Linked DNA regions of Homo sapiens: regions 2, 3 and 4 are each reported to be linked to region 1. Evidence: microRNA targets listed by miRTarBase, many of them from high-throughput screens and not tested one by one. Region 1 holds a microRNA gene; each other region holds the end of a gene's coding sequence.
Evidence for each region. The annotated mature microRNA hsa-miR-764 reads GCAGGUGCUCACUUGUCCUCCU and lies in region 1 at 2,680-2,701, opposite strand. An mRNA with a match to its seed (bases 2 to 7 or 8) in the 3' UTR can be bound and repressed. Matches are read on the target gene's strand: a 7mer-m8 pairs with bases 2 to 8, a 7mer-A1 pairs with bases 2 to 7 and ends in A, and an 8mer does both.

Region 2: the mRNA of TOMM70 is a reported target of hsa-miR-764. Seed matches in the 3' UTR shown: 7mer-m8 at 5,401-5,407.
Region 3: miRTarBase lists PBOV1 as a target of hsa-miR-764. Seed matches in the 3' UTR shown: 7mer-A1 at 2,548-2,554.
Region 4: miRTarBase lists ZNF37A as a target of hsa-miR-764. Seed matches in the 3' UTR shown: 7mer-A1 at 5,307-5,313 and 7mer-m8 at 3,408-3,414.

Annotation. Positions count from the first base shown.
Region 1 is chrX:114,635,020-114,642,145 of GRCh38, reverse strand. MIR764 (microRNA 764) reads right to left here and starts at 2,711; the gene lies at 2,627-2,711. All of the region lies in intron 2 of HTR2C (5-hydroxytryptamine receptor 2C), which reads right to left.
Region 2 is chr3:100,359,217-100,366,342 of GRCh38, forward strand. It overlaps TOMM70 (translocase of outer mitochondrial membrane 70), which reads right to left. Exons shown (of 12, transcript NM_014820.5): 12 at 4,215-6,501. The coding sequence ends at 6,348. It overlaps NIT2 (nitrilase family member 2), which reads left to right. Exons shown (of 10, transcript NM_020202.5): 10 at 1-2,419. Among named protein-coding and RNA genes, the nearest start is that of NIT2, 28 kb to the left of the region's middle.
Region 3 is chr6:138,211,640-138,218,765 of GRCh38, reverse strand. PBOV1 (prostate and breast cancer overexpressed 1) reads left to right here and starts at 275. Exons shown (of 1, transcript NM_021635.3): 1 at 275-2,780. The coding sequence starts at 371. The coding sequence ends at 778. All of the region lies in intron 4 of ARFGEF3 (ARFGEF family member 3), which reads right to left.
Region 4 is chr10:38,118,395-38,125,520 of GRCh38, reverse strand. ZNF37A (zinc finger protein 37A) reads right to left here. Exons shown (of 8, transcript NM_001324250.3): 8 at 896-7,126. The coding sequence ends at 6,684. Among named protein-coding and RNA genes, the nearest start is that of ZNF37A, 28 kb to the right of the region's middle.

The sequences.
Region 1 (7,126 bases):
ATGATAGACTGGATAAAGAAAATGTGGTACATATACACCATGGAATACTGTGCAGCCATAAAAAGGAACAAGATCATGTTCTTTGCAGAGGCATGGATGGAGCTGGAAGCCATTATCTTCAGCAAAGTAACACGGGAACAGAAAATGAAACACCACATGTTCTCGCTTGTAAGTGGGAGCTGAACAGTGAGAAAACGTGGACACAGGGAGGGGAACAACACACACTGGGGCTTTTTGCCGGGGAGTGGGGGTAAGGGGAGGGAGAGCATCAAGATGAAATGCTAATGCGTGCTGGGCTTAATACCTAGGTGATGGGGTGATAGGTGCAGCAAAACACCATGGCACACGTGTACCTATGTAACAAACCTGCACATCCTGCACGTGTACCCTGGAACTTAAAATAAAATAAAATGGCATAACATCTTTTCTCGATGATATTTTTCATTATTATCTGTTGGGAAATGTAGTCATACTTCTCTGCTCTTGAGAGCAATTTGAATTTTAATGAGGAAAAAAGTAAAATGTTGAAAGCAAGTGTTGAAAGAAAATCAACTTATCCCTTGTTGATCTTATATGGATGACCACTTGAACCTAGCCAAGTCTGGAAAGACATAGATTTTTTTTTTACTTTGAAAACTAATCAAATCATAAAAGAAAACCCTCACTATGAGAGCTAGTCAGAAATCCATGTTCAGTATTTCACAGAACTGTTTCTCCACTTTTAAATGAGAATATACTAATCAATGTCACCATATCAGAAGAGCTTCTAACAGAGTACAGGGGTAAATGATTTCATGTTCTAAAATATAAGGACTATGCAAAAGCAGAAAACAGTTTTAAGAGAAAATATATGCATCTATTCGTGAATTTTATATGTCAACAGAATCCAGTGGCATCTGCTAAAGCAGAAAATCTACTACGAATAAACATTTTATTCAAGTTTAAGAAACAAGGAGAAGCAGGAGGATGGCTTGAGACAGGGAGTTCGAGGTTATAGTGAGCTGCGATTGTGCTACTACACTTCAGCCTGGTGTAGACACTGATGAAATACACAGATGAAAGAAAGAAAAGAAAAGAAAAGAAAAGAAAAAAAGAAAGAAAGAAAGAAAGAAAGGAAGAAAGAAAGAAAGGAGAAGGAAAGAGAGAAAGAAAGAAGGAAAGAAAGAAAAAAGAAAGAAAAAGGGAGGGAGGGAAAGAAAGAAAGAAGGAGGGAGGGGGAGGGAAAGAATGAAGGAAGGAAGGACAGGAAGGAAGGAAGGAAAAGAAAGAAAGAAAGAAAGAGAACGAAACAAGGAGAAACAGCGCAATAAAATAGATGTTGTATCACAAATCCATAAGATAGAAAGGTCCTACTTTTGAAATAAGGTCAAGAAATCTCTATTCCCCAGACTGTAAGCTACTTGAATGCACAGAATCTGCTTTTGTCTTCATTACACTTAGCATAGTGCCCTGTATTTAGTAAGTCTTCAAAAGATGTTTGTGCCATTGCAAAAATGAATGTCAATAATTTTAAAAATATGCCCAATTTGTTACCAAAAGAGCCAACCATTAAACATTTACTGTCAAGCTTCATTGTGGTATGTCATAGCTTGAAAACACTCTGTAACACACACCTTTTGTGTACTATGAGATTTGAGTCTTATAAGATCAAAATGTGGATAAATCTCTACCTGCAGTGTGGCAAATGATAAGATGTGATTGGCAAAGTCTTTAATGTTCAACTTCCCAATGGCCCAGCCGTGTACTTTATTCTAACTAGCATTCCGTGTCATATAAGAAGCCTCCCTTATTTCTAATCATTAATCACTCTTAAAGATATATGTGTTTCATTGTTTTCATTTAAAGTGAATGTAAAATACATTTAAGTAGAGATGTAGAGACTGACAATATCCAATTCTACTTTTTATGGTTCGAGGATTCGTTATCATCAGTCAATTGAAGAAAATACTACTTCCAGTATTAGACTGCTAAAATGATTATCATTAAAGATAAATAGATTATGAATGGAAAATACCTTTCATATATTAAGTATTATATAAATATGTGTCGAACAAAAAATGTATGAAAATTTATATTTCAATGATGATTATATTTACTTTGTAATTACTATTATTTCACTATTATAGTATAGCACAATTTCTTCAAATGTCAATTTTGAAAGTTATAAAGTTCTATAAAGCAATCTTACTTCCTGGCTTAACCTTAACCTGTAATATACTTCAAACTCAAGGACAGAAAGATTGTAAAATACAGTAATAATATATTAATCTTCTTACATCTATTCATACTTTTACAAAAATTTTCCAGGCAGCATTACACAAGGTTAAATACAAAGTTAAAAATCAAGAATCTCAGTCCCTTTACCGCTGTTTATTTTTGCCAATGGAGTATATATTTTATCACTGCAACATTATAATCTGTGAACAACACATGGCTTAAACATTATGTTGTGTTGTTTAGAAGAAATGGCCTGAGAAAAGTAGCTTGCATTTCAAAATCTTTAAATTTCAAAACATTACCACTGTGTTCTACCTTGAGGAGTTTAAAATTTCACAGTCCCACTGATCTGAGAGTCCTCAATGCATTGATTACAACCAGCGGGTCCATCTTCTATCCCAACGAAATTAATCATGGTAACAGTTGCCACTATGGCCTCCTCCCTGCATTTTCCAAGCATGGAGGAGGACAAGTGAGCACCTGCCTCCTAGATTTTAGATTGAAAATATCACCCGAACACACCAGGATTCTTTATACTATGGCAGAGTATAACCTTCTGAAAAAGGCCAAGAGTCTCCTAATGAGCACATCCATACATTGATCATGATGTTTTCCTTTAAAAACCAAGTTCCTCCAAGAATTTGTAAATGGAATTTAGCAATATTTACAATTTACTCATCAATAAATGGCATTTGAAATATTTATTTCACATTGTTTTGTCACATAGTTTAAAAATTTGATCAAAATATTTATAGAACTACTTTTTGTAATAGGAGAAGCCCTTTTTCTTTTAATAATAAAAATAATGTGCCAAGTAAAATATTCATTTATGAAACTGCTCAAGCAAAAGTAAAACCAGAAATATTCGAGATCATTAAGGTTATCCATTCTTCTTGTAGAATATTACTGAAACCTACAAAAGTATTACAAGACACATGCACATGTATGTTTATTGCGGCATTATTCACAATAACAGACTTGGAACCAATCCAAATGTCCAACAATGATAGACTGGATTAAGAAAATGTGGCACATATACACCATGGAATACTATGCAGCCATAAAAAATGATGAGTTCATGTCCTTTGTAGGGACATGGATGAAATTGGAAATCATCATTCTCAGTAAACTATCACAAGAACAAAAAACCAAACACTGCATGTTCTCACTCATAGGTGGGAATTGAACAATGAGAACACATGGACACAGGAAGGGGAATATCACACTCTGGGGACTGTGGTGGGGTGGGGGGAGGGGGGAGGGATAGCATTGGGAGATATACCTAATGCTAGATGACGAGCTAGTGGGTGCAGTGCACCAGCATGTCACATGTATACATATGTAACTAACCTGCACAATGTGCACATGTACCCTAAAACTTAAAGTATAATAATAAAAGAAAAAAATAATAAATAAATAAATAAATAAACGTATTACATAATGGTCAAAAACATATTACAAATTATCACTTTAAGAAGGTTTAAAATTGTACAAGGATTCCATTTACAACATATTTGATCTATATGCTTGCTAACCTAAAGATCTTGGTTATATAACATCTCATACCTCTGCATTTCAAAGATGGACAGTGACAGACATTGTTAAATTCCTGTTTGAAGGTATTAAAAATGACAGACTTTGTTTCTAAATTATGAATTTCCACATTATATTGAACTCTCGGGCTATTTTGTTGCTCGCTCTCAATTTGTGTTTACTACATTGTTTGGGGCATGAGTAGGTTTTCACTAGCTCATCTGAGAGGAAACTCCCTGTTTCTGAAATTCTTTAAGTAGGTTTGTTTGGAAAAATCAGCGAAGCATTCTGTTTAACCTGAGTCATTTCTTTCTACATTAAGCAAAGTTGCCTAGTAGTTAGGCAAAGAGCCCAGTCAGTTACCCTGAACCACAATGGATGCAGATCTATTTTCTTATTATTTCTGTCCCTGAAAAGTTTCATAGCTCCTCAGGGAAAAAAGACATACCCACCATCTTGTAGGTCTCAATTAAGCTTCCTTTCTTTTAGGTTTACACTCACTCTCCCTTAGCGAATTTTGCTTTTTTTTCAATTGCAAAAAACGAAGCCTTCCCATTGCCTGTTTAAAACCCAGTTTGCCTTGCTCAATGTCATGGCTTTTCAGGTTTTCTAAGACTGGTTACTCACTCTGCACGTCAGTGTGAGTTTGCATTTTAATTTTCCTTCCTGCACCTGATCCTTTACAATGACTCTGTAAGGTGTCAATAATCTCTGAAAGTTCTGGGATGAGGCACAGAATTTGGATCATGCTCTTATTTTGCCACAGTGGTAATTAAACACTAACACATACCGACACACATACACGATGAGTAGAGGTTTACGTTGTGTTTGCTTCTAGACCCTGAAATAATTGAGCTCATTTTCAAAATAAATAATCTACTTTCAAATTTGGTCTTTATTTTACACATACACTTAGTCAGAGATGTCTGCAGCTTAATATTTCAGCACATTGTCAAGCAATTCCATATGCTTTTTTCTTTTCCTCTTCCTACTTCTCCTTGTTTAGTCAGAAGTTTTCAAAGTTTTGAGTGCTTTATAGATTGAGGGTGTAGAATATTCTAATATGACTGGCAGAATAAAACAAAGACTGATTTATATTTCTCATGCAGTATATTTGAAAAGACAGATTCCCAACCATTTGCTTACAACTCTATTTCCAGCTCCTATTGGTTAGTTTTCAGTTGTTCATATCTCTGATTTAACACTTTTAAAAGTGCCTCTGTATATTTACAGGCTTAAACCTACAAGATTATGTATTTCTGAAAAAAAAATACACTTAAAAAATGTCAACAGATCTATGTGGAAAGCTAGTAGAAATTTCTTAACACTTAAAATTCACTTATTTTTTTAAAAAATTAGTAAACGGTACTGACTATGAATATTTTCCTGAAAGGACTTCAGTTTCCCTGCCAATCCCTAACCACACCAAAAGTGAGAGGAAACCCCTGGTAACAACGTTTACAACGTGTTCTGTGTGTAAAAGTGCAATCTGGAGAAAATAAATACCCTCACGATTATTTGCTTTCCTTGTAGCACTCATTTATGATCAAACATTTATTATAACTCCTATTTTTTCCTACTTTTAGTTTTCATTCAACTTGTCTTGATAAAGTCTTGAGTTCTCTCCATTTAATTCCCTACTGCTAGCTTCATGACCATCAATATCAATGTGAAAATCATACATTAGTCAGAGGTAGACTCCACCTGGCTTTAACTATATCCTGTAGAGGCACACACAATATCTGTCTCTGACTTCTGACAAGTGACAAAGATAAAAGAATGAGCTATCAACTTAAACATGATCTGCATTTGATCTTGTATTTTGCATATACTATATATTAAGAAGGCTCCAGAGTTAATTATGGATAAATATACAGCTACATTTATCATGCCACAATTTTCAAGTACAGAATGAATATTTGAGAAGTAAAAATAATTTTCTCTTGCTCATCAGATTCCTTTTAGGCTAGATCTATCCTCAACTTATCCAGTTAGTGGAAGGGAGCATCAGTGTGTATTATCAAAAGTGATGTATAATCCATACTGATGTTTTAGGGTTACTTTTCCAACTCCCTTCAAAATAGGAAAACCTGCACTGGGAAGTGGGCCTGTAGCCTTGAATCAGCTGGATTCACAGAAGACAACTCAGCTTCTTTGAGTTGCTAGAGTTCCTTGCTGTTCAGTACCATAACTCCACTCCAGGGAGCATGACCTTTCCTGTTAGGTGATTAGCACTGGGAATAAGAGCAAGATTCTTTAGATCGGGGAGGTAGGGCAAATGGGAAACTGGTTTCATTTGCAAGCAGGGACAAAAAAAAAAAAAAAAACCATTGCACAGCATTCATGCTTCCCAGCTGAGTTGGCTGCAGCCTCAGTTACCTGTTAACATAACAGCTATATTCACAGTCTGAAAATACACAAAGCCAGCTTTTCCTGGCAGTCACTTATCACTCTAGGGTTGCATTACCATCACAGGGAATGAAAACATGGTTCTAATCCAATTAGGAAACAAAGGGTACTTGCAAGAAAAAAGTTTCAATTCAACTTAATGCAACAAATATTTGTTGGTTTGGGAACATTTACCTGCAAGAAATATTCTTCTTTGACATAGAAGCACGTGATTCTAAACTGGCTACAACAATATCATTGGAGGTATTGGTGACAAAAGTGATTACCATAAAAATTAAAGCAGGAAAGGAACTTGAAAAATCATTTACATAGTCCTTAGTGGAGTGTCTTGCACAAAGTAATCTCATCATAAAAAAACTGATGAATGGATGAATCCAGTTCAATCCCTCATTTTACAAATCAAGAAACTAAAGTCAAAATGAAGAAGTAATTTTCTCAATGATACAAAGTTAGCCAGTGGAAGAGCAGGACAAGAGACCAGAATTTCTGAGTCCTTACCTATTATTCTTATTAACATACTCTTCTTTATATTCAGTCATTTCCACTGTTGATTGATCCGCTGTAGACCATATTCGTCTTCATCCCCATAACTATGTGACTTCATGCCCACAATGTCTTTTAGTACAGCAACTCCATTAAACTAGCCTTAACCATTCTAATCCATATCCTTATATCTCTTCTCTGAATTTTTAGTGTTTACTGGCTATACCAAAAATTGAAGCTTTTAATAAAAAACACATTTGGCAAGAATTTTATGTATATATCTTGCATCATTAATAAGTTTTGTATGCTTCTTCAGGTAAGGGACATTTGTTTATAGTTCTTTATATATATCAGCATGTAACACGCAGGTTTACCTTGGTGCATCAGAATGAGTATATAATTTAGCATCCAGATTGGACACTTTTGAGAGTTAAAAATTATATTTAATACATGTGCAATAAGCATAAACTGTGACTGTCCTAGG
Region 2 (7,126 bases), not on the chromosome of region 1:
TCATAATCAAATGAACAAGAATCTGCAAGAACAGAACATGGTGGGCAGGGTCCAGTAATTCCAAATGTTGTCATCCTAGCTCTTCCTGAAGCATATTGAATCCTCCAAGTATATCCCGTTGTGCTAACTAGGCTTTAAGTCTTTTGTCTGTAGATTCATTCTCAAAGTTTCTCCCTCAGAACAAAGAGCACGCCATCCTGTAAAGTACTCTTCCTGATTTTTTTTCACCCAATTTCTTAGTTTCTTTCAATTGCTTTTCAGACCCCGGCAGGCAGATTCTGCCCTCATCTGTCCAGTGACACTCTTCTGGCAGATTACTAAAGACCGATTTGTAGACCTGTCCATGTGGCCTCTCTCAACACCATTGGTGTGACCTTGCTCATACTGCCTCTCTCACCACTTAACATTGTCCCTTAGATGTTAAAGGCCCTTATATTAATAGTTTTATTTTAGCTCCTTTACATTTTATTTTGTCCTGAGGAATCTCAGCTACATGCATGGTCTTCAATATATGCCGATAATTCTCATTCACATAGCTCTCCTGTTGGCTTTTCCCCACTCGTTTAAAAACAACCACTTCACTTTGCTGGACTCTACCTTGAATGCCTCATTTTCAGCTCACACTCATGCTGTGCCTTTATTTAGATTTGTTGTGGTTGTTTCCCCACATTCTGGAAGCTCCTTACCTAAATCCTGTTTATTCCTTAATGCTTAGCACAATTTATTACTCTTGTTTCCATGGCACTACATTGTACTTCTGTTTTAGAGACTACCTTCCTCTGAAGCATATGACAGGTTCATTTACTATCCAGCCCACCAAAACTCAGTTTTTGAGCTCCTCTATGTTCATCTTTTTATGGCTAACCCTCACCATCATGAGTGCTTAGTAAATGTTGAGTTGGAATGAATTTATTCCTACAGGTTGCACTTGCTCTCTCACCAAGTGTTCTGGCCAAATAATTCTGGAATGATTTCCTTACCTTAAGGGAGTCTGATCTGGGAAGAGCCTGGGACGTGATGTAACTTCATATGCTGTAGAGCTGAATATTCATTTACTTAAGATCTTAGCTCCATTAGAAAGCAGTGAAAGCAGTGTTAATTCAGAGGCCGGGTATGGTGGCTCACGCCTGTAATCCCAGCACTTTGGGAGGCCAAGATGGGCAGATCACTTAAGGTCAGGAGTTCAAGACCAGCCTGGCCAACATGGCAAAACCCCATCTCTACTAAAAATACAAAAATTAGCCGGGTGTGGTGGCACATGCCTGTGATCCCAGCTACTCGGGAGGGTAAGGCAGGAGGAGGTTACAGTGAGCCAAGATCACACCACTGTACTCCTGGGCAACAGAGTTAAACTGTATCAAAAAAAAAATGCAGTATTGATTTAGAGCTAAGGTCACCTGATGCTCAGGCCAGTAATTTCTCCCTGCATCATGCTGTTGTCTAAGGCAGACACTGTAAAGCTCTACACTGCTGAAAAACTAAGCTTGAGATGCATAAAAGAACACATAGAGATGGGGAGTCAGTTCTCCATACATTTTGTGAGTAGAGGCATTGGTGTTTTGTTCCAAACTATCCAATCGAGAATGTTCATATAATGACAGCTTTGGAAGGTAGAGACTATCTTCCTCTGGATCATAGGACAGGTTTGTTTACTATCTGATACAGTCAAAATAGTGTTTCCCTCTAATGCGAAAGTCAGGCCAGTTTGCTTGTGACCTCATTAGATTTGGGCTGTGACGCAAACCCACTGCATGTGCAGTATCCACCTAGCTTGCCCTGTGTCACTCCCATGGGATCTGTGGCTCAAACTCATGTTGCTTGCTATGTTCTAAATAATTAAGTCTGTTGTCTGACCCAGGAGTCTCATGTCTTCTGCCAGCATTCAGAAAACTAGTTTTCAAGAAGGGTAACATCTTAGACCTTTTACAGCTCTTGACACAGAGCAATATTGAGAAATAAAATCAGGTAAAAGTTATTTAATATAGCAGTTCATAATTTAGGCCATGGATCATCTCTGCAGAGAATCCTACCATGCTGCATTCTTGCTTTAAACCTTTCGCCCTCTAAAACAATGCCCAAGAGCCAATGTTAGTCATGGTCTTCCTGTATTTGCTCTAGGTAAGCTGTTTCATAGCCTTCCAGGACAACACTTGCACAGGTTATCTTTAAGCACCAACAAAAGAAATGGAGAAATTTGAGCCATGTATCCTGAGCTCTGAAAGGCAGCAATCATCTTGACCCCAAGCATACACCATGTTCAGCTTCCTCCCCTTGGCCAGGTACCACAGCTACTTCTATCCCAGTGATCAGCAGGCCCTCCAGCATGAAGACCTTTGAGAAGGATCTATAGCTGTCAACTCCTAATATGATTTGTGCACTATCACCTTGAAGTAAACCAGACTAGTTATTTTCATGCTAAGAGTCTGAAAACAGTGCCTTCTTTCTGATGTCTCTTGTAGAATATTGGCAGAGGGATCTCAATTTTTACTTTATACCTGAAGGGCAGCTTTTTGGTCTGATAGTTATAGTGCAATCATTCATATTTTAAATCACAAATACCCCCACTTGTTGATGAAAACTCCAGTCTGTGGCATGGGTGTACATTCACTGCCTAAACCATCTTTGGCCAAAATTTGTGTGTATATGAAGTCATTCTACTTTAGCATACTCAAAGGCATTCCTTTAAACCATTTATCTGCTTGTACACAATAGCCAAAGGAATATTTGTTACTATGGCTGATGTAATAAACTATCATCACAAATTTAGTGGCTGAAAAAAAACAAAGTTATTCTCTTTTACTTCTGGAGTCCAAATTCATGGGGCCAAAATGAAGGTGTTGGCACTCTGCTCTAGGGCAGGATCCGTTTCTTGCCTTTTCCAGTTTCTGGTAGTTGCCAACATTCTTTGGCTTGTGGCCACATCACCTCCAGTCTCTGCCTCTGTGGCAACACTGCCATCTCCTCTTCTGTCTAAAACCTTCCTCTTACATAGACATTTGTGACTGCATTTTAAGGTCACCAGATCATCTAGGATAATCTCCCCTTCTCAAGACCCTTCACTACATCTGCAAAGCCCATTTTTTGCCAACTAAAGTAACATTCACAGGTTGCAGGGATAAGGATGTGGCTGTCTTTTGGGGAATCATTACTCATCCTATCAGTGTGGTAAAGCTTGCAAGTAAATTAAAATTTTGTCACTTTGTTCACAAATCAATTTAGCAGAGGATGGGAATAGGACTAATTATAACCCGTATCCCCACAACAACTCCTAAGTTATTTCCTTATAAATACAAATTCCATACAGGACAGTCTTGGGTAATTGTTATTCTATACTCCTAAGTTTCCTGGTTTGGCTATATTGTCCTCCTGTTATAGTCTTATAACAATTAGTTGACTTCTACAGGTACAAACTACTATTTAAACTACAATTTGAGTTCCCAGAGGGCAGAAAGTTCTGTCTGAACTGTTTTACAGCCAAAGTTGCTTTTTATTGTTTTGGGATGTATTCTCTACTTATACCACAATTTTCGAGGATGATTATTTCAGGTATGCTTTCTGAGAGACTCCACGTGGTTGAGAACTATGATCAATCTCACTGGTGAAACCAGATTCAAAATAAACTTATCCACAGGGTCCATGTCTGATTGGCAAGCTTCCAGGCTGCTGTGCATGTATGGGTAAGGTAGAGGCAAAGAATGAAATAAGTTGGCTCTACCAGCTCTCCGTGGAGCCTTGTTTCACAGTAGGAGGGGTGGATGCTCTCAAGAAACTCCACCATTCATACCAACAAACTTACTTTGCTTCATATGCTAACATTTCCTGTATGTTCCTATTTTCAAAGTTATTTTGAGTTCACAAGAGATTCACTGTGAATTTACGCAATAGCATAATAAATGAATAAACTACCTTTTTTTTTTTTTTGAGACGGAGTCTTGCTCTGTTGCCCAGGCTGGAGTGCAGTGGCGTGATCTCAGCAGGTTCACTGCAACCTCCGCCTCCCGGGTTCAAATGATTCTTCTGCCTCAGCCTCCCAAGTAGCTGGGACCACAGGCGCCCACCACCACACCCGGCTACTTTTTTGTATTTTTAGTAGAGACGGATTTCACCGTGTTAGCCAGGATGGTCTCGATCTCCTGACCTCGTGATCTGCCCGCCTCGGCCTGCTAAAGTGCTGGGATTACAGGTGTGAGCCACCATGCCCAGCCTAAACTACCTATCTTTCTATTTAAAGAATAGATAGAAGAGCTTGAATGTAATATTTATTTGGTGAATTTACATGTGAGGTCATTTACAAAAGAAAGATACAGACAGATGCAGCTTTCAGTGCAGTTTCAAACATTTTCACAACAGGCAATAGTCCATGAGAATTTGGAATGACAGTATAGAATGGCACATGCTTCAGTTTCCTTTGTGTTTCTCTACCCAACCCCAAGATGAAAGAAGGGAGAAGAGTAGAAGAAAATGTCAGTGTTAATGTAAATACAGCCATGCAAATAAAAACTTTTTTAAAGTCAGAGGTCATTCAGAGATGTAGAACATTTCTGTATTTGGGGGTTATCAGAAGGTGCATAATTTAAAAACAAAATGCAGCGGTCTCAAACTTCCCATCATCCAAATCATCTTGAATTATATTAACTGCACCAACTAATTAGTGACCTCCTCAATATTTTCCAAAGATTGACTTTGAAAGGGAGTCATTTCTAATAGTTTCTAAAAAAGATAGCATTTGTAGACAAATCTTTTTGGTTTCAACAGAATTAAGCACCCTTAAGGGGTGTAAAAATGCTCCTTTACTCCCAACAGTGTAAACCATAATTATAATTCGTTCTTAAATAAACCTCTCCCCATCCTGAGTATTTCAAAACAAAAGACCCCTGAAGAACACAACCCTTCCCTCACCAGAAAAATCTAGCATATAAGCAAAAGGATGGTCTATAAAAGTGGAAAATGGAAATAAATCGTAAAGTGATTTCTAAGTAAGGAGGTGGAGTAAAGCTTAAACACTGTCAGTACCCCTAGTGAAGACCTGGACCTGGGTAGTTAGTCCTTAGAGATCAAGGTTAGCTCACTACAAAAAGCACTCTACATGTCCTCAGCATCTTCAAAAATAAGTGGCTCAAAATTCCTTAAGCACATGTAGCCATAGTTAAAGCACTAAACTTGTTATTTCAGGAAATACTATGCTCTGGCTCCAAGTCTTACATCCTTTTTGACCCTTTAGCCACATGTCCTTCACGAGAAATTTTAAGCTATTTTAATACTCCCATATATCACACTTACTCTACCTTTATTTGGGTTTTACATACAAGCAATCTGCACTTTGATTTTAAAAAAGTTCTAAAATTTTTTAAAGGATGGGGTCTTGCTATATTGCCCAGGCTGGAGTGCAGTGGCTATTCGCAGGTGCAATCATCATGGCACATTACAGCCTCGAGCTCCTGGTCTCAAGCCTCTTGCCTCAGCCTCCCTAGTAGCTGAGACTATAAATAGTATATACAGTGCCACTGTACCCTCTATCCTACATTTTTAAAAGCTCACCATTAAATAGTACTAATTATTATAGAAAATAGTCACAGACAATTATAAACACACTACTGTTTCATCTTACCTCTTTGTCTGGTCCACTCCCCCATCAATACTCAGTCTTCCAACACATATATCAATTAGAATATTTTGCATCTGCATAATTTACTGCAAGAAAATCTGCTGTTGTGGACTTTAAGAAGAATGTACACTATCCATTAGAGTGGAAAGGGGCCAAGAGGATTAATAAGTGCCACCAAGTTTCTAAAACTGCAGAATCAGAGGCATTGTGCATGCTGACAATGGTTTAAAGGGTCTCTCAATTTTACTTTAATCCCCCATTTAACCTTTGTTTCTTTCAAAAAATCAACTGAAAGCGGTTAACTGAATATAAATCTATTTTACAGCATTTACTACGTTAATTTAAAAATCAACATGCTGTAAAATACTTACATTATTCACACATATATAGACGGAATCATCCAGAACATAATCAACTGCCAACCCCCCTTAAAAAAAAAATCAACAAATCAGTTTTTATTTGCATGGCCAATTATCATTTGTACTCTTTGCAACTTTATTTAAAAATCCCTTTAACATGTTCTAATCTTTTGTTGCACAGGGAATAAAAGCTGCAAGACTGCAAACTTCCTTCAACAGCCACACCCACAACACCTAGACATGAAACAGATGTAACAAATAACAACACCACAAACAGAAATACTGATTTCCACCATTCAACACAGTTCATGACAGTGTCTTTAGGGTTCAGTTGAAGAGGGGGTAAACTTTTAAAAAGAGGGTCAGTCTGCTTTCCCCCTGTTTTATAATGTTGGTGGTTTTAATCCGTATTTCTTTGCAACTTCTGTCTGGGCATGGGCGGCATCGCAAAGTGAATACAGATGGGCCATCTCCATTTCCGATTTGGCCAGGTTAATAGCTTTGTTGAACATGTCAATGGCTTTCTCCATGTTTCCTCTAAAAGAACAAAATTTTTAAGTCTCAGATTCAACAAGCACTTCACAATATTCAATGAAGGTTGTAAGTGATGGTACATGAAGTCTGACCACTAAGTTTCTTCACAATATTCAATGAAGGTTGTAAGTGATGCTACATGAAGTCTGACCACTAAGTTTCTACTATGATTCTAGTAAAATGCTTCTTTTAAAATAAACAAGAGTACCTACCACATTGAAAGCACTCAATGAATGTCAACTACTATTACAAATACTATGTGCTTACATTATATCCCTTGTATTCTGTGTTTACTGATAAGAACAGTCAGACTAGGGAAATTGATTGGCTTATTTAAAATCACAATTCCGTCTGGTTCCTAAATTTTACATGTTTCTACTGTTAACATGAGACTCCTTTAGAAAGCAGTGACATAATACCGGGACACTAATGACATGCAAGGGCCTTACCTTCACAGACTGATGTGGGCCCACCTCTTTCTGTTTCATCTCTTACCAGCACATCCCCAACCCCATGCATCTCTACTCTTCAGGCAGTCTATGTGAGTTCCTCACACCTACTCAATAAATACTCAGATTTATTGCCTCTGCCTGATTCTGGTCAAATCCACAGCTATCTAAGAACCAAC
Region 3 (7,126 bases), not on the chromosome of region 1:
GAGAGCCTCATCTCAAATTGTCTCTGCCCATACAAACACAGAACTTTTGATAGTTTTATTGTTTATACTTATAGACCTGACCAAGCAAGCTCCTCAAGATAGGGTTGTTAAAGGGCTACAGCCAACCTGATTCTCTACATCTGAAACAATAATTACAGAGCTCTTCTGGAATAATCAAATCATAAAACTCTACCTCGTAGGATGGAACAGAAACATTGGCTCAGCTAAAGAGTGGGTGTTTTCCTTAGATTGTGGAATCATGGCTGATGGTTAGGACCTTAAATATATCGAGGTGGCTAATTGATGTATAATAATTTACAAAATTATTCTTCTATGCTACAGAGCTACAATTCAATTTACAGTAGTAAATATGAGGGCCTTCTTAAGGAACCAGAAATATGAGGATATGCACAATATTATTCACATTTTACAGATCAGAAAATTGAGGCACAGATTAAGTAACTTCCCAAGGCTACCAGGCATTCTAGCTCCAGAAACTGTGCTCTTACCATTCTGCTACAAGGTATTTCGAAAAAAAGAAAAAGTAAAAAGAAGTCAAAAGGCAACAGAGTTCATTGATTATTCCATAGAACAGTCACACCATGCAATTCTCACACCCTTGCAGACACACTTGACCATGAAAGGTTCCTCAATGAAATGTTCCTCATTATCTTCAGAAGCCATATTATTCACATTGACTTTGCAGTTAACTCAGACCCTAGGTCTGGAATGCTGTCTTCTCTACTTATCCAAAACTATACATCCACAGATCATATAAACTCTCAGCCCTGCTGCAAAGCCTTTCCAGAAAAATAAAAATGGTTGAAAAGGCAATTCTGCTACCAATGACTGTTTAAGCCCAGCCAAGTAACTGAACCATTCCAACTTCAATTTACTTATGAAAAGAATTTGATGATGTAGGAGGTTATTTCAATTCTAAAATACAAACCCATGTTGATCTTTCTCAATCTTGAACTCATAGATTATTATCTATTATCTCAATTTAGTTTGTTATTTATCCTAGTGGGCCATTAAAAACTACCACATGTGTTTCTGTCTCTCCATTAGTCAATAACTAAACTAACGAGCAATTAGTAAGCCATGTGCCAGATGCTCCGCTAGGCACCAGAGGGATAAAAACAATACTTATAGTATACCACTAATTTTCGCTTAGTAACTAGTGAAATGTTCAAGTCATGCCTGAGTCAAGAGTTGAGGAGACATTACAATGTGTAATGGAAACCAAGGAAAGTGAAACTTTGGATAAGTGGGGACTAGTGTATTTATATATTTAATTGATTTCTGACTCTATCATTGGCCTCCAAACACAGATTGTGTTTTTCTTTGGTTTTGTTTTCTTCACTATGGGATCTTCTGTGCCCAGCACAGTGCCTGACACATAGAAAACAATCAAATATTTGCTGAATAAATGATTAAAAAATCAGAGAACTTTCCCATTCTGTTTGGATCTATAGAACATCCAGAGTAAGTGATGAGGGCCTCTGCATTTATATGCGCTTAAATTAAGATTATGTGAGAAAAGTTTAAAGACACTTAGTAGAGTGATTTTGAAATATAGTAAACACTTGGAAATGGTGGTGCTTTAAAAAGATATTAATAGATAATATGAAAATCTCCATCTCAAAAATAATGCATAAACTATTTAAAGGAAAATCACATCTCCAGGCTTTCAATGTTTGTTCATTACTTTTTCATATATTTTTACCATCTGCTGAAGGCAGTCATATCAAAGGGTAAAGAAAGATGGGAGGAAAACTCAGTAAGAATTATATTAGTCTGTTTGCAAAGTAGAAAAAGATTCTCATCACTCAACCTTATGAGCAGGAAGAGGGAAGGCTGTTTGAGAACCATTTACTTAGCAGAACCACATATTTTAGACACTTCCCTGCATTAACTGCACAAACAATATGTTTGCAAACTTGTTAGATCAACCTCCAACAACGACACATTCAGGAGTTAAATATTTTTCATCAAACATTGGATTTTTCCTTAACGCTAGAGATTGCTACAAATCTTCTGAAGGGTCTCAATGGCTTCAGGCTAAGAAGAGATTTCTCCCTGTTATAAGCAGCAAGACAAATTAGCCATTTCACTCTCAAACTTCACTAATGATCACATTCTTTCCAAAAGGAACTCTAGAAGACCAAATGCCCCGAGTTAAGAACATCAAAACTAACCATCTGAAGAAACTTCCCAAGTGTAAGACTCTGCCATTAAAACATTACCGAGAGGGGACTCAAACAGTCTTTCTTCCTTTGTCGTGTTTCTTGCTCCCAGACCAAGGCACTGACGACAGTACTGATACATAATTTAAAAGCACACTCCCTTCCACTTTGTAATACCAGAACTCTAATTGGACACCCTGAAGCTTAGGACTACCAGCCATACAAATAGTAAACTCTGTCCACGATTCACTCATCTGTGTATTTTCTATAGATGTTTACTAGGCGTTTGTTATATAAAAATACCCCGGCCAGGCACGGTGGCTCACGCCTGTAATCCCAGCACTTTGGGAGGTGGGTGGATCACCTGAGGTCGGGAGTTCGAGACCAGCCTGACCAGCATGGTGGAACCCCCATCTCTACTAAAAACACAAAAAATTAGCCGGGCGTGGTGGCACATGCCTGTAATCCCAGCTACTCAGGAGGCTGAGGCGGAGAATTGCTTGAACCCGGAAGGTGGAGGTTGCGGTGAGCTGAGATTGCACTATTGCACTCCAGCCTGGGCAACAGGAGTAAAACTCCCCCCCACCCAAAAAAAAAAACAACAACAACAAAAAACCAAAAAACCAAAAAACCAATGGTAAATTACACTCTTTCCCTTTCCCCAACACTCTCTCTCTCTCTCTCTCTCTTTCACACACACACACACACACACACACACACACACACACACACACACACCAGACCGATTAGCTAACTTAGTGGAAAAGACACTTAGATTCCTTCTTCATATGTGAATTTAGCTCACAGGACTAGTGAGGGAATATCATTATCACGGGAAGACACAGAAACCACACAGGACTCTGAGCCACTCCTAGTTTTACCCCTCCTTAGCCTGTGACTTGGCTTTTCTGCTCCATCATCTACACAAGAAGAATAGCAGTGACTAGCACCCACAAGCCTCTCAGGATAGACTTGGCAGGCAAGGTAACCCACCACTTAAGAGCACAGGTTTAACTCCAGGCTGAATACTGCCCTGGTCATTTCACTAGCTGTGTGACCTTAGTATCAATATGTCTGGTGCATAAAAAATGTTAAATGATAAGCCCCTGTCATTTCTCCTTTAAAAATTGCAAAGCACTCTACGAATATTCACTTCTATTATCTAAAAATGCACATAAAAAAGACACCCAGTAATAGAATATTCATCAAATGCTCTCTCAGTGTCCAGCATCATCTCCTTCCTTATCGCCAAAGCCAGCCTGCCCTCCCCAGATAGGATGCCCACATCTCCCACATGCTTACAGAGGCGAACAGCCAGCCATAATTCCATTCGGCAGCCTTTGAAGACTCAGCCAGCTGTATCAGTTAATAACCTCACTAAAGGTTATCCATCAGAAAGAAGGGAAACAAGTCCTAACTACTCTCGTCAGAGAAGTCATTAGATCCGTACATGGCTCCTATACAATCTGCCTGGCATTTATGGAAATAGCACACACCATAGGAAAATGTTGCCAAAGCAGACAAGTATTTAACCTAAATATTCAATAGTCTACTAATCCATTTCCAAGGTAATCTATCTTCAGAGCCTCTTTCTGATTCTGTACAGTTCTGACCATTTATTGTTTGCTCAAGCTGTAAAACTTTTCTTTGGGTTCCATAGCCATTTCAATAAATCAAACTTGCCTTTTCTCCCCTTCCTGTTAAATAGTAAAACCATGTAGAATAGTTCCTAGACTAAGTGATTTAACCTCATTCCTATTTGTCAGAAGCAGGCTTCACTGATTTTTTTTAACCCTCTGATTGAAAGTCTTCTTTCTAAATGAGAATACTATCCTTGGAATATTGGATTTCATTATTGGCCCGTTTCTGTTTAATCTTGGAGAAATCTCTACAAAAAGGAAACTATATTATTTTCTTTCCAGAAATTTAATACAATTGTTCCATACACTTTAGAGTGTGACATGGTTCAATCTTCCATGTTTATAAGCACTAACAGATACCAATATGTGAATAAAACGCATGATCTAACTTCTAAAAAATAACACCTAGGATCCGTTATAACAACGTGCTATGCTGTGGTCGGACAGACAAATAAAAACTGCATGGTGTGGCCTTATCCCTCCTGAATAGCATATCCAGACCAACATTTGAAGATGTCCACCATATCTTGTTTTAAAAGGTTTTCTGTGCCTACAAAATACTTATATAAAATGACTGGAAGATTTTTATAGGAAATTTCTTAAATAATTTATCATCAGAATGAGTCATGTAGAAGTGCCAAGACTAAATTAACATACCCTTCAGATGTAATGGAAATCCAGTCTTTTCTCTGGGGACTCATCTAATTCTCTCTTCTATAATTTTTGGGAGAATACAGTAAAAGCATTTAATACAGTAATGGTATTAGCAAAACAAGGACTTATTTAAGAGGCTTTACCTGGATCATTACAAGTATTACCGAATTATAAGATAAAGGGTGTTGGCTTCTGGAGATTATTAAAAAGTTGATATAGAAATTCCTCATTCAGAGAGAAGAGGGATAAAACTTATTATTCTAAGCCAGAAAGTCTACACTGTGAACCAATCTCTATACCAAAACAAGTATTTTCAATCTCAGAAATAGCAAATGATTATGGAGCCCTCACTTGTGACCTATCAAAGTCAGGTTACCATCAAGTTTTATTTGATGTTAATAACAACATTACCCAAAGTATAGTTATCTTGTCATTAATTTTCTAGCAGCTTGGCCAAAATGTTTATCAAAAAGTATACTTCAAAAAATTAACTTCAGGCTAGGTTTGTTGTGAACTGAAATATTTTTCCCCAATCCTAATATTTAAATAGTTAAAAATAATGGTATGTTTCCTATCATCTCCCCATCACCCCTCCCTTCTAAGCACCCCAGTCTCCAGCAATCATTATCTTACTCTCTACTTCCGTGAGATCAACTTTTTTCGATTCCACATGTGAGTGAAATCATGGTATTTGTCTTTCTGTGCCTGGTTTATTTTATTTAACATAATATCTTTTGGGTTCATCCACAGTTATAGTTAAGTTGGAGGAATAAATTTTAGGAGCTCTACTGTATAGCAAGATGACTATATTTAGTGACAATATTTTTTTTTTTGAGACAGGGTCTTACTCTGCTGGCTACAGAGCAGTGGTACGATCTCGGCTCACGGCAACATCTGCCTCCTAGGTTCAAGCAATTTTCCAGCCTCAGCAACCCAAGCAGCTGGCACTACAGGCTCACACCACCAATGCCCTGCTAAATTTTTTTTTTTTTTTTTTTGAGATGGAGTCTCGCTCTGTCGCCCAGGCTGGAGTGCAGTGGCACGATCTCAGCTCACTATAAGCTCTGCCTCCCGGATTCATGCCATTCTCCTGCCTCAGCCTCCTGAGTAGCTGGGACCACAGGCACCCGCCACCATGCCCGGCTAATTTTTTGTATTTTTAGTAGAGAAGGGGTTTCACCATGTTAGCCAGGATGGTCTCAATCTCCTGACCTCGTGAGCCCCCCACCTCGACCTCCCAAAGTGCTGGGATTACAGGCGTGCGGTATTTTTTTAATTATACTTTAAGTTCTAGGGTACACGTACACAATTGAAGGTTTCTTACATAGGTATACATGTGCCATGTTGGTTTGCTGCACCCATCAACTCATCATTTACATTAGTTATTTCTCCTAATGCTATCCCTCCCCACAACAGGCCCTGGTGTGTGATGTTCCCCGCCTTGTGTCCAAGTGTTCTCATTGTTCAATTCCCACCTATAAGTGAGAACATGTGGTGTTTGGTTTTCTGTCCTTGTGATAGTTTGCTGAGAATGATGGTTTTCAGCTTCATCCATGTCCCTGCAAAGGACATGAACTCATCCTTTTTTATGGCTGCATAGTATTCCATAGTGTATATGTGCCATATTTTCTTAATCCAGTCTATCATTGATGGACATATGGGTTGGTTCCAAGTCTTTGCTATTGTGAATAGTGCCGCAATAAACATATGTGTGCATGTGTCTTTATAGTAGCATGATTTATAATCCTTTGGGTATATATCCAGTAATGGGATAATGGGATAGCTGGGTCAAATGGTATTTCTGGTTCTAGGTCCTTGAGGAATTGCCACACTGTCTTCCACAATGGTTGAACTAATTTACACTCCCACCAACAGTGTAAAAGCGTTCCTATTTCTCTACATTAACTTTTTTTATTTTTTTGTAGAGATGTGGTTTCGCCATGTTGCCCAGGCTGGTCTCAAACTTCTGGGCTCAAGCCATCCCCCTGCCTTGGCCTCCCAAATTGCGGGGATTACAGGCATGAGTCAAATGCCCAGCTGACAATATATTCTTGAAAAATGTAAACAGTGGCTATTATGTGCTGTCACCACAAAAGTGATAACTATGTGACATAATGCATTTGTTAATTAGCTAGATTTAAGCATTCCACAATGTATACAGACTTCAAAATCATGTTGTACATGATAAAGCATACTATGTTATCTGTCAATTAAAAAAATAATAGCATGTAACAAAGGCCCTTATCTTTTTAAGCATTTTGGAAATCTCATTGTAAAGACTGACAGATTCATTGTTTTTCTTTTTTCTGACAGTGTCTGACTTTCCTCCCAGACATTAACTAAAAGTATCAAGGTTTATAATGGTGTCATTGGAGAGTCCATTAAGAGGCTTTCCACGATTTCTGGTGGAGTTAACCTGTGTCAACTCCTATCTTCGGCAAGGCTAGCAGAAGGCACTGCTGGGCGGGATGGAATCAGAAAGCAAGTACAAGTTTTCAAAATAGGTGCGACTGTTGACATAACCATTAAACGTTCTGCTTGTGCATAGCTCCTAGAAGAATGGGTACTTCCTCATTTTAATTTTTAATACAAATTTCTGTATTCCACAAAAACTATTCCTGGGAGAATTTCCAGAATAATATGTAA
Region 4 (7,126 bases), not on the chromosome of region 1:
TTTACCATCTCCTCTCCCTCCATGCAGTAGGGGCATGTTGCAAATCACAAACTCCAAAAAATTAAACACAGGACATTTAAAAAATTAGCATTGGTATTGAACACTCTCCCCCAAATCAGGATTATTTGCCATTCATATTTTTTCTGTAGTGAACTTTCCACACCATTCTTTCACCAATTTTCTTATTAGGATTTTTCTTCTATTCTTAACCAAAGCTGTTTTACAGGTATTTTTTTTAGTCCATTACTCGCCTTTCCATTTCCTTAACTGTGTGCTTTGAAGAACACAAGCTTTTGAATTTAACAAAATCTAATTTATCAAAGTTTAAAGTGAGTAAATCATTTGTATTATAATTAAGTGCATTAAATTTATTTTTGTATGTTCCATATTTTTATTGTCCTATATAGAAATCATCATCTAACTCAAACCTACAAAAATTTTCTCATGTTTTCTTCTACAAGTTTTAAGTTTGAGCTCTTATATTTAGATCTATGATGAGTAGAGGCTTTATATATGCTTTGGGGAGTCAAAGGTAACACCACTTTTTGAAGACATGTCTTTCCCCTTGGATTTCATTGGCATATTTTCTGAAAATCTCCCAAGCACCTCATGGTTTATGGCTGTGATTCTGGACTCATGTATCCATAATTGTTTTGAATGTCCACATAAATTTATAATCCACTTGTCAAATTTTAATTCAGGTGGCGTTTAATTAATAGAACAATTTGAGGAAAACTGACATCTCGAAAATAGTTTTCTTGCCTATTTTGGCCCTATTTCTGCCATACACATTTTGGAAAACTTTTTCCAGTACTAAGAATAAATATTGGGAGCTTTATTGAAATTGTATTAAATTTATAGAAACATTTAAAGGAAACTGATATTAACAATGGTCTTCCTAATCATTGAAATTTTACTTTATTTTTAATTTTTGTGGGTACATACTAGGTGTATATATCTATGGGGTACATGATATATTTTGATATAGGCATGCAATGTCTAATAATCACATCAGGGTAAATGGGGTATCCATAACCTCAAGCATTTATCCTTTGTGTTACAATTCAATTATACCTTTAAAATGCACAATTATTATTGACTGTAGTAACCTTGTGCTATCAAATACTAGGTCTTAGTCATTCTACATTTTGTGCCCGTTAACATTCCCCACTTCCCCCTCACCATGCCCTCACTGCCTTTCCCGCCTCTGGTAAACATCCTTCTACCCTCTATAAGTTCAGTTGTTTTCATCTTTAGCTCCAACAAATACGTCAGAACATGATGTCTGTCTTGCTGTGCCTGGCTTATTTCACTTAATGATCTCTAGTTCCATCTACAATGTTGCAAATGACAGGATCTCATTCTTTTTTATGGCTGAATAGTACTCCATTGTGTTTATGTACCATATTTTATTTATCCATTCATCTGCTGTTAGACACTTAGGTTGCTTCCAAATCTTGGCTATTGTGAGTAGTGCTACAGTAAACACGGTGCAGATATATCTTCAATATACTGATTTCCTGTCTTTGGGGTATATAACTACCAGTGGAATTGTGGGATTGTATGATAGCTCTATTTTTAGTTTTTGAGGTACCTCCAAATTGTTGTCCATAGTGGTTGTACTAATAACATTTCCACAGTGCACGAGGTTTCCCTTTTCTCCACATCCTCTTCAGCATTTGTTATTATCTGTCTTTTGGAGAGAAGACATTTTAACTGGGGTGAGATGATATCTTATTGTAGTTTTGATTTGCATTTCTCTAATGGATCAATGATGTTGAGTACCTTTTCATATGCCTGTTTGCCATTTGTATGTCTTCTTTTGAGAAACGTCTATTCAGATTTTTGCCCAGTTTTAAATCAGATTTTTTTTTCTATAGAATTGTTATAGCTCCTTATATATTCTGGTTGTGAACACCTTGTCAGATGTTGATACAGTTTGGATATTAGTCCCTGCCCAAATCTCACTTTGAGAGGTAATGCTCAGCGTTAAAGGTGGGTCTTGGTGGAAGGTGTTTTGATCAAGGGAGAGGATCCCTCATTAATTGATGCTGTCCTCACATCAAGGCCCATATTTCTGCCATATACGTTTTGGAAAACTTTTTCCAGTGTTAACAATAAATACTGGGAGTTTTATTGAAATATTAAATTTATAGAAACTGCTATTATTTTAATAACAAGTCTTTAAACATTGAAATTAACTTTATTTTTAAATTTTTGTGGGTACAAAGTAGGTGTATATGTTTATGGGGTACATGAGATATTTTAATACAGGTATGAAATGTGTATAAACACATCAGGGTAAATGGGTATCCATGACCTCAAGCACCCCTCACAAAATCTGAGTACTCACAAGATCTGGTTGTGTGGCACTTCCCTTCCCCCCTCTCTTTGCCCTGCACCTGCCATGTGAGATACTTATTCCCCTTTTGCCTTCCACCATGGTTGGAAACTTCCTGATGCCTCCCTACAAGCTGATCAGATGTTAGCACCATGCTTCCTGTACAGCCTGCAAAACCGTGAGCCAATTAAACCTCTTCTTTATAAATTACTCAGTCTCAAGTATTTCTTTGTAGTACTTCAAAAATGGCCTAATACAGATGGATAGTTTGCAAATATTATCTCACATTCTATGGGTTGTCTCTTCACTTTGTTATTTCCTTTGCAATGCAGAAGATTTTTAACTTGATGTGATCCCATTTGTCCACTTTTGCTTTGGTTGCCTGTTTGTCAGGTATTACACAAGAAATCTTTGCCCACTCCAATGTCCTGGAGAGATTCCCCGATGTTTTCTTTTAGCTGTTTCATAGTTTGAGGTCTTAGATTTAACTTTTTAATTAATTTTGATTTTTGTATATGCTAAGAGATGGGGGTCTAGTTTCATTCTTCTGCATATGGATATCCAGTTTTCCCAGCACCATTTATTAAAGACATTATCTTTTCCCCAGTGTATGTTCTTCATTCCTTTGTCAAAAGTGGTCACCATAGATGTATGAATTTGTTTCTGGGTTGTCTATACTGTTCCTATGTGTCTGTTGTTATGCCAGTATCATGCTGTTTTGGTTACTGTAGCTCTGTTGAATAATTGGAAGTCAGGTAATATGATTCCTCCAGTTTGATTCCTTTTGCTCAGGATAGCTGACTATTCTAAGTCTTTTGTGGTTCCCATATAAATTTTAGGATTGTGTTTTCTATTTCTTTGAAGAATGTTAAAGTTTTCTGGATGTTCCACAGTTTATCCATTAACCTGCTGAATGACATCTTTTTTTTTTTCTTTTTTCCTGAGATGGGGTCTCACTCTGTCTTCCAGGCTAGAGTACAGTGGCACGATCACAGCTCAGTGCAGCCTCAATCTCCCAGGCTCAAGCGATCCTCCCACGTCTCTGCCTCCTGAGTACCTCGGACTACAGGTGCATGCCACCATGCCTGGCTAATTTTTGTATTTTTTGTAGAGACAATTGTGCCATGTTGCCCAGGCTGGTCTCAAACTCCTGAGCTCAAGCAACCCACCCACCTTGACCTTCTAACATGCTAGAATTACAGACATGAGCCACTGAGACCAGCCAGAGTATTTTCTTACTGTCAGGTACATGAGATGATTCAGGCTCATCTTGTATTTCTCCCAATCTCTGACTAGGAATCATCCCTGTTCCCCTTTTTTGTGGATAGTATTTAGGAACTAATAACTTGGCAGTTGGTGTGCTTACTGTTACTGAGGTGTCATTGTGTTTAGGTCCTCTCAGTAGAATGAACACAAAATATATGCATATGTGCACACACAACAATTTATTTATTTGTTCCTATATATTTAAAAGATATGAGTTCTATTCTAATGCCACACTCCAGGTTTTCTAGCTCTCCTCATTCCTATTTTTATAAATACCTTCTCTAATGGAGAAATCTTGCTGTCATCATTCTCAACATATTTATTTGCTCAGTGTTACCAATCTCTCAACAATGCTGCCCATCTCCTCCCCCTGTCCCTTCCACACCTCACCCTCAGCCCTCTTGGTGCCAGCAGACACAAAGCCACAACTCCTCTCATCCCACGAGGCAAGTCTAACTCCTCCACTCTGGGGAAGGAAGGCAGGAGAGATACATGAAAAGTCAAAGGGGGGAATCAAAAGAAAGAGGAATGGAAGTCCACACTGATTTTTTTAAAATAATAAATCTTTTGATTGCCCTAATAAACATCTCTTGGTGATGATATAGTTTATGGATATGGCTAGATGTTTTTTTCAATTTTAGGATTTTGCATCTAAATCTATGAGACTTTGGTCTATAGCTTTATGGGTTTTTTTGTTGTTTTTTTTTTAGGTTTTGTTATCAAGGTTGTACTGGCCTCAAAAACTGAATTGGAAAAGTTCCATCTTTTTTCTTCTAGAAAAGTTTATAAAAGCCTGGTATTATTTCTTAAATATTTGGAATAACTTCAGTGAAGCCATCTGTTCCTAGAGTTTTCTTTCTAAGCAAGTTTTTGAATACTCCACTCAGGTATTGTTTGCAGTTGTGACAAGGCACAACCAATCTCTAGTATGACCTTGTTTCCAGGGCTTTTACTGATGGCATGTTCACCAACCCACTGGCACTTCCTAAGTTCTAATCATTTCTCCTTTGTACTGCAAAATGCAAAACAAAACAAAAATCCTACTTATTATCTTCTCAAATTAGCTTTTCAGGCTCCTGCCCTATGCAGCATGAGACATCTGGAAATTTCTTGAGAAATTATATGTGTTTGAAGCTCCTAATGTATCCATTTTTTTCATTGCAGTCTTGATTGTTCTTCTGGTTTCTGGTCCCCCCCATGCCTTCCCCTGACCCCCAGGTTATGGTCCTCTGCCTGAATCAAGTTCAGTATTCAGGTTCTTCCCTATAGCCAGAAGTGGAAAGGGCCCCCAGAGCTGCATTTTATGCTTGTGCTTTCTGAGATTTACCACTCTCTAGAATTTTGCCCTTTAGTCCTCTTTGCTTCTATAGCAATAAGTTGCATTTAAATATTTTCTGTAATTTTATAGTTATCCTCAATGGGTCCATTCTGCTGCCAACTACTATACCTTACCCAATAGCAAAGTATATTTTTGCTTTTTTTTTGTTTTTTGAATCTCTCTCTGTCACTCAGGCTGGAGTGCAGTGGCATGATCTCAGCTCACTGAAACCCCCACCTCCCAGGTTCAAGTGATCCTCCCACCTCAACCTCTCTAGTAGCCAGGACTACCGATGTGCACCACCATGCCCGGCTAATTTTTGTATTTTTAGTAGAGACAGGGTTTCATCATGTTGGCCAGGCTGGTCTGGAACTCCTGACCTCAGGTGATTTGCCCACCTCAGCCTCCCAAAGTACTGGGATTACAGGCATGAGCCACCATGTCCAGCCTATTTGTGCTTTTTGAAAGCTCCATATTTAAGTTATATCTACACATACATTTTAAAAAGTTGTATCACCTATGAAAGACATGTTTCAGTATGGAGAGAAATAGAGTTGGGTACAATAAGTCACTCACAGCAGAATGTCCTGGCTTATGTGTTAGACATCTGCAGGGCAGAAACCACCAGAAATCTGGACCCACTCTCTTCTACTAATCCTCATAAGTTGCATACAAGGCAAATTGACTTGCTGCTTTGATCCACCATTCTGAGATGGGTCGTCTGAATTTAGTCTGCCCTAGGATTATTCAAAAATCCTGCTGGTGGGCTCCTGTACTATGGCCCCTGATTGATGGTCTTTCTCTTTCTTCTGGACATACAAGAGCACTCTTGTTTGTGGGTCCCCTTGCTAAAAAATCTTCCCTTATTTTTCATATGGCTAAGCAATAAACCTTTGAACTACTTATAGCCATTGGCTTGAGTGGCGTCTTTAGAAGTCTCTTAGAAAATAGCAGTCTTGACAATGAACTAAACTAGATATTAACAAAGTAAAATGCTATTTCTCAATAAAAATATTTTTTCCACATTTTCTTAAATTGCTAGATATCCTGCAACTCAACACCTCTGTTCTATATTAAATTTAGATTTTAACTTAAAACATCCACACATTGGATACAGTTAAAAATACTTTCTCTACTATCTGATGTTCACTGAGAAGCTACTTCTTATTACATATACTCCATAAAATATAACCTCATAGTAAATGCTTTCCTATAGTTTCCTACAGTTTGTGCATTTTCTCTGGCCTCTTGACTTCACACAGAATGATTTTCCACATTCATTACACCCATAGGGTTTCTGTCTTATATGAGTTCTGTGGTGAACAATTAGAGCTGACTTCTGATGAAAGGTTTTCCCACATTCATTACACCCAAAAGGTTTCTCCAAGTGTGTCTTCTCAGGTATTCTGTGAAACTGTAGTAGTAGCAGAAAAATGCATCCCTTCTCAACCTAGGGATGCTGACCCAGGTTTCACCCCGTGTGAATTCTCTGATGTTTAATGAAGAGTGGCATTGGGCAAAATGTTTCCTATATTCATTCACCAATAAGTTTTTTCCACTTTTAGTTTTGTAACATAGTGTATGGTCCAAATTCCAGAATAATGTTTTCCTGCATTCCCTATCTTCATATTGTTTTTTCCCTCTTTAAGTTCTCTTCTATACTGTGAGAACTGACTTCAGGGCAAAGGTGTTCTCATTATCATTATATTAACAGATTTCTCTCACCCTTTATGTTCTGTGTTCTACAAAGTTCTGACTTCACCCAGAGTAATTTCCCTCGTTTACTACATTTATAGGGTTTCTCCCCAAGTGTATTCTCTGATGTACAGTTAGTTTTGACTTAACATAGAATGATTTTCCACAAACATTACATTCATAGGGTTTCTCCCCTGTGTGTGTTCTATGATGTGCAATGAGTTTTGACTTCACACAGAATGATTTTCCACATTGATTACATCCATAGGGTTTCTGTCTTATATGAGTTCTCTGGTGAACAATTAGGGCTGACTTCTGACGGAAGGTTTTCCCACATTCATTACATCCAAAAGGTTTCTCCCCTGTGTGTCTTCTCAGATGTTCTGTGAAACCGGAGTAGTAGCAGAAAAATTTTCCACACTGAATACATTCATAAGGTTTCTCACCTGTGTGAGTTCTTAGATGTTTAGTAAGGGTTGACTTCTCAGAGAATGACTTCCCACATT